Regions from separate parts of the Homo sapiens genome. Here region 1 is linked to region 2. The links come from fine-mapping of genetic effects on gene expression. A gene starts in region 2. The other region holds a variant in brackets. All regions are shown on one strand. Distances are between the middles of the regions. Region 1 overlaps PPM1H (protein phosphatase, Mg2+/Mn2+ dependent 1H). Region 2 holds the start of LINC01465 (long intergenic non-protein coding RNA 1465).

Evidence for each region. PIP is the estimated chance that this variant, and not a neighbour inherited with it, causes the effect.
Region 1: its variant is the best candidate, but not a certain one, in a credible set for the expression of LINC01465 in testis (GTEx, PIP 0.74).

Annotation. Positions count from the first base shown.
Region 1 is chr12:62,643,515-62,648,890 of GRCh38, reverse strand. PPM1H (protein phosphatase, Mg2+/Mn2+ dependent 1H) reads left to right here. Exons shown (of 10, transcript NM_020700.2): 10 at 255-4,897. The coding sequence ends at 402. Among named protein-coding and RNA genes, the nearest start is that of MIRLET7I, 43 kb to the right of the region's middle. The variant C/A (reference allele first, on the strand shown) is at 2,450.
Region 2 is chr12:62,601,163-62,606,538 of GRCh38, reverse strand. LINC01465 (long intergenic non-protein coding RNA 1465) reads left to right here and starts at 3,105. Exons shown (of 1, transcript NR_121682.1): 1 at 3,105-4,788. It overlaps MIRLET7IHG (MIRLET7I host gene), which reads right to left and starts at 3,796. Exons shown (of 2, transcript NR_186001.1): 1 at 3,704-3,796. MIRLET7I (microRNA let-7i) reads right to left here and starts at 2,853; the gene lies at 2,770-2,853. RefSeq lists enhancers at 2,413-2,934, 2,935-3,456, 3,563-3,752, 3,833-3,942, 3,457-3,978 and 1 more and silencers at 2,783-3,082, 3,173-3,482.

The DNA.
Region 1 (5,376 bases), 42 kb before region 2:
AGAGGACTGAGGAGGTGAATAATGTAAGACATTATCTAATGTATTTAGTGCCTTATCCCACTACCATGTAAACAATAATCTCACATTAGGTGTCCTACATTTTGGGAAAAGATGACCTTGTCTTTTTCGTATTGTAAGTGTATTTGAAACTTATTTATACAACTGTAGTGATGCCTCCCCCTTCCCAGCCTCACTTGACCCTGGCTTCTGTCTGATGCTCTACTGACTGTCTCGTTCCTGGTTCTCCTGTGTAGGTACACACTGGCAGCTCAGGACCTGGTGATGCGTGCCCGGGGTGTGCTGAAGGACAGAGGATGGCGGATATCTAATGACCGACTGGGCTCAGGAGACGACATTTCTGTATATGTCATTCCTTTAATACATGGAAACAAGCTGTCATGAAAATGGCCCAGGGGATTGGGAGGACAGAGGGGAAGAAAGCTGGGATGCCTCTTGGCAGGACGGAACTGGGAAGTGCCCCAGCTGAGTTCCAAGTGATGCAGTCTCTTCCCAGCCCAAGCGGGGAGTTCATGGCCAAAAGACTATGCTTCAAGATGACCCTTTGGTTTCCATTTCTTCTTTAGTAACAGGTCAACTCAACAAGAGCAAAACACAAAGGCTGCTACCAAGTGTTGTTGTATTTCAGTTCCTTTCATAGGCCTCCGAGGTGGCCATTGACTATTTGGGGTATATATGTCATATTTATTTTATCTAGAGTAGCTGGGGCAGCCATTTTCAGGTGTAAATGGCAGAGGACTCTTCAGCCTGTCAAGCTGCCAGCTTATCTACGGGTTAAAAAGTGCTGCATTGGAAAGTAGGGGGTCATGCCTCAAAATGTAAGTAAGTGCCCACCTTCTAGGAAGCCTGAGGTTTATTTCAGGGATTGCCGTCTGCCCCCCGCCCCCCTTCTCTTTTTTTCTTCTCTGTTTCTATTCTTTTATGGCAGTGGTGGAGTGAGGCAGGGATTTTTTTTTTTTTTTTTCGTGTTTTTGACATTCCTTGAATCTGTTTTTTATTCCCCTTCCACAGAACAGGCCTGGGACTTTCCAACACCCTGCTAAGGAAGTTCTGTGTCCAAGTCCCACCCAGGCTGGGTTGTCCCCACCTCCTCCAGCCCACACAGCCCAGGCAGCATCCGGGCCAGTGCCCTGCATGACAGAGGGTCTTTGTTGTGTAATGTTTGTTCCCAAGTTGCATTTTCTAACCGAATCAGTGTGTTTTCATGAAACTGAGTGTTTCTGTGGACCAGTAGTTCCTCTGTTGTCTTCAGTGGTCTTCCTGTGTGGCTCAAGGGTTCTCTGTGAGAGTCTGGATTTTCATTTCTGGAATGGCTGGCCCCATCCCACTTTTCTGTATCATGGGGACACATATAAAGCAGTGTTTAATAGAGCAGTTTAAGAAGTTGCTTGCATCTGTTGGTTCACCATGGCTCATCTGGGGACCATTTTGGATTCATGTTTCATGGCTTGTGACTGTCCCCAAGCCCACTCCAAACAAAGTGTAAGGATCAGAGTTCTGTCAAGGAGCAGCAGTTCTGCTCTCCCCATCATCTTTGTGCAAGGCCCCTCGGGGGGCACTTTAATAAAAGAATTTGAAATGGGTTGACTGGCCATTCTCATGCTGTGCTCCCTGTCTCTTCTCTTCTCTAAAGAATCATGTCCCAGCTCCTCAAGGTCCCTCTATGGTTCCACATCTGAGTGTTCGCCACAAGAGCAGCAGCAGCAGGCACAGTGCATGCCATATCTACCTGCTGCTTCTCTGCTGGGAGGAATGGCCAAGTAGATTATAAAACTCACTTCTGTCTCTTAGGCAGACTTGTACGGCCACAAAATTACCTAGTCTTCTTCCTGCTGAGCTACTGAGGTATTGCCACCATTTTGACAACTTTGAGTAATTAAAACACTCTTCTGACCCAAAAAGGAAAAAAGGTCACTGACGTGACCCCCCCAGCATGCTAGAGAGCTAATTCCAGTTCTCATATTTGTTTGAATTTCTTCCCAGAGGAGAGGATAGGAACCTCTCCTCCAGGGCAGTAAATCACCTGCATTTCTGGAGTTGTCGGTATTGTATTCGAAAAGGCCTGGAGCCCCTCCTGCTCAGGAAAGAACTCATTCCAGGGTGTGGAGACAGTGCCGTCTGGCAGGTGAAATACTGTGGGAATTCACGCCACCAGGTGTTTGTGCAAGTGTTGGCCTGGGAAGAATGGGACTTCGGCCTTGTCAGGAGTTGTCTTCATCTGCAGCACGTTTCTTCCTCCTGCAGTAGATCTTAGCTACCCCAGATATCTCTATGGAGAGAAGTTTGTGGAAAATGCTTTGCTTCGTGGCAGAGTCTGATGCTGTAGGAAAACCTTCGGGCATGTGACAGCAGTGTGGTCCACTCCCTGTTCTGCCCTGGCACTCAGAGTCATGTGTAAGTAGGAAACCTGAGCAAGTCTTCCGTGGAGGAC[C/A]CTGAGCTGCCGTCTTTGGGATCCTTCCTGTGTCCCCACCGTCTTTCATTTATTTGCTTTCCTGGGCCTCTATCTGGGCCCTACCTTGAGCTTCTCCAGTTTTATTCAAGCCACCAGAGTAAGAATTTGGGTGTAGATGTCACAACTACCTTCTACTCAATTCACCAATTCATTTACTGCTATGGCACGTCTCAGGAATAACTCTAGAAACCTCTAAATCGAAATATTATAAAATCTTGAGCACTTAGTCCTGCTGGTTTTAGTTAGAAAGGCATCCAGGAATTGTTTTCCTACGCCCCCTTGAGTGGAAAGATCTTAGTTAGAAGATAAAGTCAAGTTTGTGTTCAGGGGATGGGAGGAAGACTATAAATAAGATGAAGAAATCAAAAGTAGGAAACATGATGTAAACGAAGCATGGCAGATCTGTCCAGCACTGATATTGCTCTATAAATTGAGCTTACTCAGTTTTGGCCTTATTTTTTTACCCAGGCCCCATGTCACCCAGTCCTAAAACAGTAACCGTGTCTACATAACGGGTTGGCCCCTGGTGCATCCCTGGAAAAGTCAAAGGACGCACACTTCGAAATTCTGCAGAACGTATTTATACATGGTTCAGAAATCTTGCGTATCTGACTTATAGCCAAATCTGCTTGCTCGAATAGCCTCAGAGGAAGTCTTGTTTAATAAAAACCTTTTGATTTCCTAGTCAAGTCTTTATGGTTGTCTCGAGGGGTGTGTGGCTACTTTAATGAAAGGCTTTCCTGCTCTAAATCTCTTTGCTGGGCTGGGCCTCTTCAGACTATCTGGTGAAACTCCTTTCCTTAGAACAAACTCAGTCCGTCCATGCTCTGTGGCATTTTGCTAGATGATAACCAAAGCCTTATTCCTGTAGCCAGTGTCAGCAGTCAGAGAGGTGGAGGGTGTGTTCTGCTGTGGTTATGCATACCTATCTGCTGTTCTTGAGGTGTAAAAGGAAAGGTGAAAATCGGGCCAGGCCAAGTACTCAGCTGTCTTAATAGGATGAAGCCTTAAGCAGTGGAAATTTCAGTTATTTTCCACAGTATTCCATTTTGGAGGATTTGGGGTGTTTACTTTTTAAATTCTTGAACAACTTAACCTCCATGAGGCTTTGTGAAGTCAGCTGTGACCACCCTCCTCTTACTGTGTTCTCAGTATTCATTCACTTCCAGGGAAGAATGACAGCCACAGGGAGATGGTGGTGGGCAAGAATGAGAGTCCCAGGATCCAGATTTAGCCTCAGATCTTCCCCATTCAGGAAGGGTTTTCCATTTAACAAGAGCACTAGTATGAAAACATTAGGGACAAATCTCCCATGTCTTTGAAATTCGGATTCTCCTCTTGAGATCCCCTTCCTCACCTGCCAATCAACTTTATAAGGCCACAAGTGGTCACTGGTTTTCCTTCCACAGGTTTGAGGTTCTCAGCTTTCCTTAAGCGACCCAGCAGCTCCGCTGTTTTCAGAGTGAATATGTTAAGCTTTGATGAGATTCTATTTTCAGTAAGTTAGTGCTTCTGGGACACTTGGAGAAAGCTGTGAGAGTCATTGTCTACGCAAAGAACAACGAAGCTGATCCTAAAAGTGATCCAATCTAAGAAAATGGTAAAACGAGCTCTGGCCACAGCACAGAATTTTATGTGAGGAACTCAGATTTTTGAAGACTTAACAATTGCAGAGAAAGGTTGCAGCCTGCACACCATAGCCCACCTCTCTGAGCAGACTTTGGTTTTGTGTGGTGACGTGGCACATGTTTGTACACTGGGATTTTTCAAAGGACGCTACGCGAGCAGACTGACTTGCCTCTTCTGTGAGCACTGTGGCTTTTGTCAGATGGAGTGCCGGTCTGCAGAGGACTGCTCTTTCGAATCCACAGTGTTATCTGTGTAAATAGCTTTAATTTTTCTTCTGTGTCTTAGGTGAAGTTTTGTTCATGTAGCAACCAGGTAGACAGTGACCAAATAAGGCTGTAAATGTGCTGTAGTTTTCTACTGTGATGTACTTGAAGGAGAACCTGTGTCCTCTACTTTTCTGATCTCCCACAAGTATTTTGTGTTTGTTTCCTGAGTCCTGAGGTTATTATTTTACTCCTGTTTTGCCCCCAGTTTTCTTTGTTTTTTTTCTGGAGACCCAGGGAGGCCCATGGTGGAGATCATTTGTAAGGAATGGATCATGGTCTGGGTTTCCAAAACTACCCTAGTACAGTGAATGAGAGAAATCTGCCTGGAAATTGTTTCAGAACCATGTACCTTTATGCTTTGTGATTGTGAAACATTGACTTTTTTGTAACCCCAAAATGAAAACTGTTTAGTAAAGGGGATCTATTTTGTGTGTTTTGAAACTTAGGTGCAATGTCCCCTGGAAAAAGCTAAAGAAATGTATATGTTCAATGACATTTTAAAATAAAATATTATATATATGTATATACGACATATTCAGCAAAACTTTTTTCTGTCTTTTCTATGAATTCACTGTGAAGTTTCTTTGTATCAGGTAATGGTCTGTCTGGTTTCTTTATATCAGGTAATGATAATGATACAAAGAGTATCATGGCTCAATGTGAGATTATCAACTGTGAACACAGACTCGAAATCCAGAGGGAATGGATGCCAACACTATAAGCCTTCACAGGAATAACAGTAAAGGCTAATACATTTCAACTATGCCTTTGGATACCATTATTACCATGGATACCATTAGTAAACACATGAATAATTCAGAGAAAAGAATTACTCCCAAGAGGTATTCTTAAGTGAGAGGGCTAGAGCCTAATCTTGCTGAAGACAGTAAGAATCCAGACTTCCCTTCATCGCTTAAGCATTTTAAGTATGTACTTACAAAGGGTTAGTAAAATGTACCATCTTATAGAGGAAAGTTACTGTGACAGGTGGGATAAGGCATCAGAGCATGC
Region 2 (5,376 bases):
TAGAAATAATTTTCAAATTTTTGCTTAATTATCTAGATTATCAGTAGCGCCAACAGCTTTTCAGAGTTTATGACAATGGTCATTAATTCTCCTTTTGGGTACTACCAATCTGGCCTAATTCATTTTCGAAGATGATTGTCCTATTTACCTTTTGTTGTAGAAATTACAGAGGGGATTATTCAGTGGGAAAGGAAATTAATAGTATCTCCTTTGTCAGCTTCACCATGGAGCGGGTGGAGTGTAATAAACAATAGCGGGAGAGAGCATGTAGCTAGGAAGAAATCTCAGCCTTTTTGGTGCTTTGTGCTTATACACTGAAGAGCTAATTTGTGCTGTCAGGTGCCTCTGTCAGGAATTCTTTGGGGACCACTCCACAAGACACAATGTCTTGAGTGCACCCTTGCCAGTCAGTCTTGCCTACCTGCCAAAAGGTTATTTTAAAATAGCTTGTAAACAAAGCTTTTCTATGTAAGATTAGCAATCAGGAATTTTAAAGTATGAAGCAAAACTGTGTTCTCCAAGAATCTTCTCCATATGGTGTGTCCTATATACCATAACACAGTCTCCATTTCCAATTGAGGATGACATTTATTAAAATGTTATTACCATAACCCAGCTTTCCTTTGGTTTAGTATGTACTTATTGAGAAGGGCACTCAAAATACTGCCTTATTACTTTCCACCAGTGGCTTTTTACAACTACAAATTACTTAAATGCTTGACAACAGACCTTTAACAAAAAAGTTAACTGCACCAAGTAAATGTCAATAATACTAAGTTCAGAAAGCTGTATTTTTGATAAATCAAATTCATCTTGTGGGAAACTGTCAACAAGGAAAATGTTCAGTTGGTAATTTTCAGTTGGTGTGTAGAGAAATGTAATTAGCAGATCATTTTTAAAACTGGAGATTAGAGCAGAAATATAGCTATGGGATTAAAACAAGTCAGCTGGTGGCAGTATTTTCTCTTGTAACTTAGGAAACAGTTAACCTCTCAAAGTACCTTTACATCCAATAACTCAAAAATGTTACTACTATTTGGGCAATATGTAGTTGTGGATAAAATTTACTTTAAAAACACAAGATATAAAGTATGAATAGTTTATCTGTATAGGACATTGAGCATTTCTGGTGTGCTTATCCGCTTAAAGTTTAAATTACCAGCAGAATTTGTTATACTTTGGGGTGCAGATTAACAACCGTTGATTCTCCATAAAAATGTTAGAGTGTAGTGGGTTGGAAGATTACCTCGGTTGGTTGAATGAAGTGTTTTGGAAAATAAAATCATAATGAAATTAGCATGTTATGATTAGTTTCTCCATAAACCAAGATTTGACACAGCACCGCAGAGGTTTTCATTATTTAAGAAAACAAGCACTTAACAAAGCCCTGAATTTACTCTGCGTTGCTATCAAGAAAAGCAAACTTCAAGAGCCAACATTCAAGCATTTTCTGCATCTTAAGATTCAAGATAAGGTTCTTCACCGCCCTTCCCACAATGAGGCGGCTCCATCCTGATGAGATCAGATTAAGTAAGGTTATTCTCAAGGCTAAACCAAACCCAATCAAGGCACATATATTAGATCACTTTTGAATGATAAAAGCATCAAACTCCTGCTGAAGGGTTTGGTTGGTTTAAAGAACTGCCTTATTTGTTTTTCAACTGAGCATCAGAAAACCATAGAAAACTGCGATTACATTATATTCAAAACTACTTATTCTGTACAAATACAGATCAGTTTTCAACGAAAAGTACTAAAACTGACCACTTACTTCCCTCAGTGAAAATAAAATAAAAATACAAGTATCTTGTTTTCCACGCAGACTTCAGGGTATTAGAGCACTGAGTATTTTCATTAGTTATCCAAACTACCTTTTTTCTCTATGCAAAGGTATTTTCCTATTAGGAGTAGTGGCCACTCAGGAATCAAAATGAGTGTTAGTAGATTTTAAACTCAAATCTAGAAACCACTTTCAATTCCTAGTCCTCTTCTCCCATACAAAACCTCAAAGATGTAAGTACCACATAACATTAGAATCAAAGGCCATAAAAACCAAAAAACCAACCCACCACACCAGCAGAATCTGAGCCCCAAGGTTAAACTAAAAAGAAAAAACAAAAAACAAAACCATTCACAGCACACTGTACATAGAATTTATTTGTTTGCCTCATACATTAAAAAATCGGAATAGTGCAATTACCTACAAATAATTTCAATCTTCTCATTCGCGAGTTGCAAAGTTTAAAGAGAAACTTTAAATTGCTTTGGGTTTACGTTTTTAAAGACACACTCAGATTTACTAAGAGAGCATATCAGAAACCAGATCTAAAATGTTAAGGCATAAACTTTAATTATCAGGTCTACTTCTTCTGCCCCTCTAATGCCAGTTCTGCAGATCGCTCACACCACTCCAACCTACAGCTAAAGAATGAAGTAAAACAGGTACACACTAAATTTGGCATTTAACTGCTGAAAGAAGTGTTAGAATTTTTTAGGGTGAAAAAGTTATCTGTATCAATTATCTTACACAATTCCACTCCTTCCTTCAAGAAAAGGAATCCAATGGCTTAGCTCTTTCCCAACCTTTAAAATGCATCGCGGTCCACCCCACTCCCCTCAATTCCTTCTAGGAAAATGTGAAACTAACGGTTTCCGTGGTGGCCGCGCCGGCCGGGCGCCGAGGCTTCGCGGGCTGTCCCCAGGCAGCGCCCCGGAAAACAAAGGGGATTCCCAGCCATTGTCCTCCGCGGCGCTGAGCATCACCAGCACTAGCAAGGCAGTAGCTTGCGCAGTTATCTCCACAGCGGGCAATGTCACAACCCGACCAACAGCACAAACTACTACCTCAGCCAGGGCCATGGTGTCGGGGAGGCACGGGACCACGCGGAGGGCAGCAAAGCGGCTCCGGCGCTCCTCCGTCCTTCCTCGCCGCCGACGTCGGCCCGCCGCCCCTTCTTTTCCTTTGCCTTCCCCCCGCGCCGCGCCCGGAGACCCCGCCCAGCACCCAGCGGCTCGGCTACTCCCGGCGCGCCCCGAGAGCTACGGGGATGAGAGGCGGCGCCGGCGCCCGGGTGATACAGCCGGCGTTCTGTACGTCAGCCACCGCTCTGAAGAGAGAAAAGCGGCGGTGTCCTGCGGAGAGAGCCGCTCCCTCCACTGCCCGAGGGGAGCGCGTCGCCTCAGCCGCTCGAAAGCAGGAAATGGGCGGCAAAAGCGCAGTCAGACACCAACTGGTTCTGGACTGCCCCCGAGAGGCAGCGAGCAGCGCTCCCGCGCTTCGCCCGCTAGGAGCTGCCGCCACGTCCCGAGCTGCGCCGCTCGCGCCCCTCCCTGCTCCGAGTCCCCGGTGGGGGCTGGGCTGCGGCCGAGTCCGGTACCCGGGCCCCCACCCGCGCCGCGCTGTCGAACCCGCCGCCGGCCCGCTCTCGGCGCCGATAATCGCCGGCGGGCATCCCGCAGAGGCTGCCGCCGGCTCCGCCAAACAGCAGCCAAGGCATAGCCGGGAAGTCCCCAGGCCACCCGTTCCCCAGCACCCTTCGGGGAATTCCCGTTCAGCTCTACAGGAGGCGAAAACGGAACAAACGAAAACCCCTTAACAGTGAAACCGGGCCCGGCGATGGCCCGGGTGGCGACTGCGACGACTCGACGCGTGCGGACACAAGACCCGTCTCGCGCTCCGCTGCTCCTGTGCGTCCGGACGAACCTTAGAGATCACTTAAGGAGGCTCGCGCGCTACTCCTCACCACGTGACCGCCCCGCCAGGCCGCCCCCCGCGCCGCCATCTTACATCCGGGACAGAGGCGGCGTCCCCTTTCCCTGCCTTGGCAGGCGTCAGCGTGCTACCAGAAATCAGCCCTGAAAGAGGGGACCCCGATTCCACGTCACCAGAGTGCTGAGGCAGCGGGCGATGCCCTCCATCGGCTCAGCGGGGGGGAGTGGAGTCCCAAACTTTTTTCGGCCTTTGCCCGCAAAGAAGATGGCGGCGCATATCGCCGCCTAAGCGGACACGTTGTACCCTGGCCGTGGTTTGAAGTTTCCGGCACCTCCTTTCCCAACCAGCAAGGACACAACCATACGAGCCCCACCCACGCGGGGTGGCTGCCGTGCTACATTCCGCAGAAAACAGGCGGGAAAGCTGCGGCACAGCCCGCTTTAAACGCAAGCTTTTGGGACTTCTGGTTTTGGCTTTTTCTTTTTAAGCCAAGTTAGGGAGAAGGCTGACTGCCATGGAGCCACTTCTGCTTTTGGCCCAGACAACTTACGGGATTTTTTTTTTCCTCCCATTTAGAGATTTTTTGTAGGAAGTTAACAAATTATTTTAAAGAAGTAGTTAGGGCTTGTCAGATAAAATACAGGACGCCCAGTTAAATTGGAATTTCAGATAACCAGTGTTTTGGCATATGTGTGTTACATATATTTTTAAAATTGTTTATCTGATATTCCAATTTAACTGCACATTCTCAATTTTTAATGACTGTATCTGGCAACCCTATCAGCCTTTACCCCTGAAAATCCAGACTGCTTATGACAAAAGTAAGGAATGGAGGGAAATGAAAAGCATGTTTACCTACAACTTAGAATTGTCTTTGCCCAGACTTTGATCCTTCATGGAGGCCAGAGGGCCGTGGTCTAGAACAAAATTTGGCAGCAACTCATAAAGATATCCTTGTATAATTCCCTTTCTGGCAAAGTAAGATTTTTTTTTTCTTAAGCTATCACGATGTAATTTTGGACAACAGATCCTCTTGGCCAAGAGTTTAATTGCAAATTAAAAATTAAATAACTGGCTTTTTGTTTCTATTCTACATGGTATAGGCGATGGGACCCAAACAATTTCTTAAAGTAGAAGTTTTCAAGTTAAAAATCAGCCTGCCTGACATATTTCATAAGAACATTTTTAGGTGCATATTCAGAAACTATTTCCAATTAAGAATATTTGTGTAAACATAATACATTTGCAGTTAAATGCTTTACCTGACAAAGCATAAACTCACCTATCAATCACTAAGCATAAACTCAAAGCAAAAACTCAATCACACCATAAACTCATCTATCAATCACTTACCAGAAAGTCTGTAGAAACTTCACACCATCCTTCCTTGATAAGCAAAGATTGGACTGCCATGGGAATCAACCCTCACTGCTCATTGACTGCGCAGTGGATCAGATTATTCTGTACCAAAGCAAATGTCCTTTGCCATAATGGCACAGATTTTTAAATGGCCACTAAACACCTGTTTGGTCTATGGTATACAGATTTGTTACAGCAGTAGTTTCCAACTAAATTTAGTCATTATACTACTTTATCACTTACATTCCTTTCCATAATGTTTTTAACAGTGCTAACACCAATATACTCATCATCCACATATAATG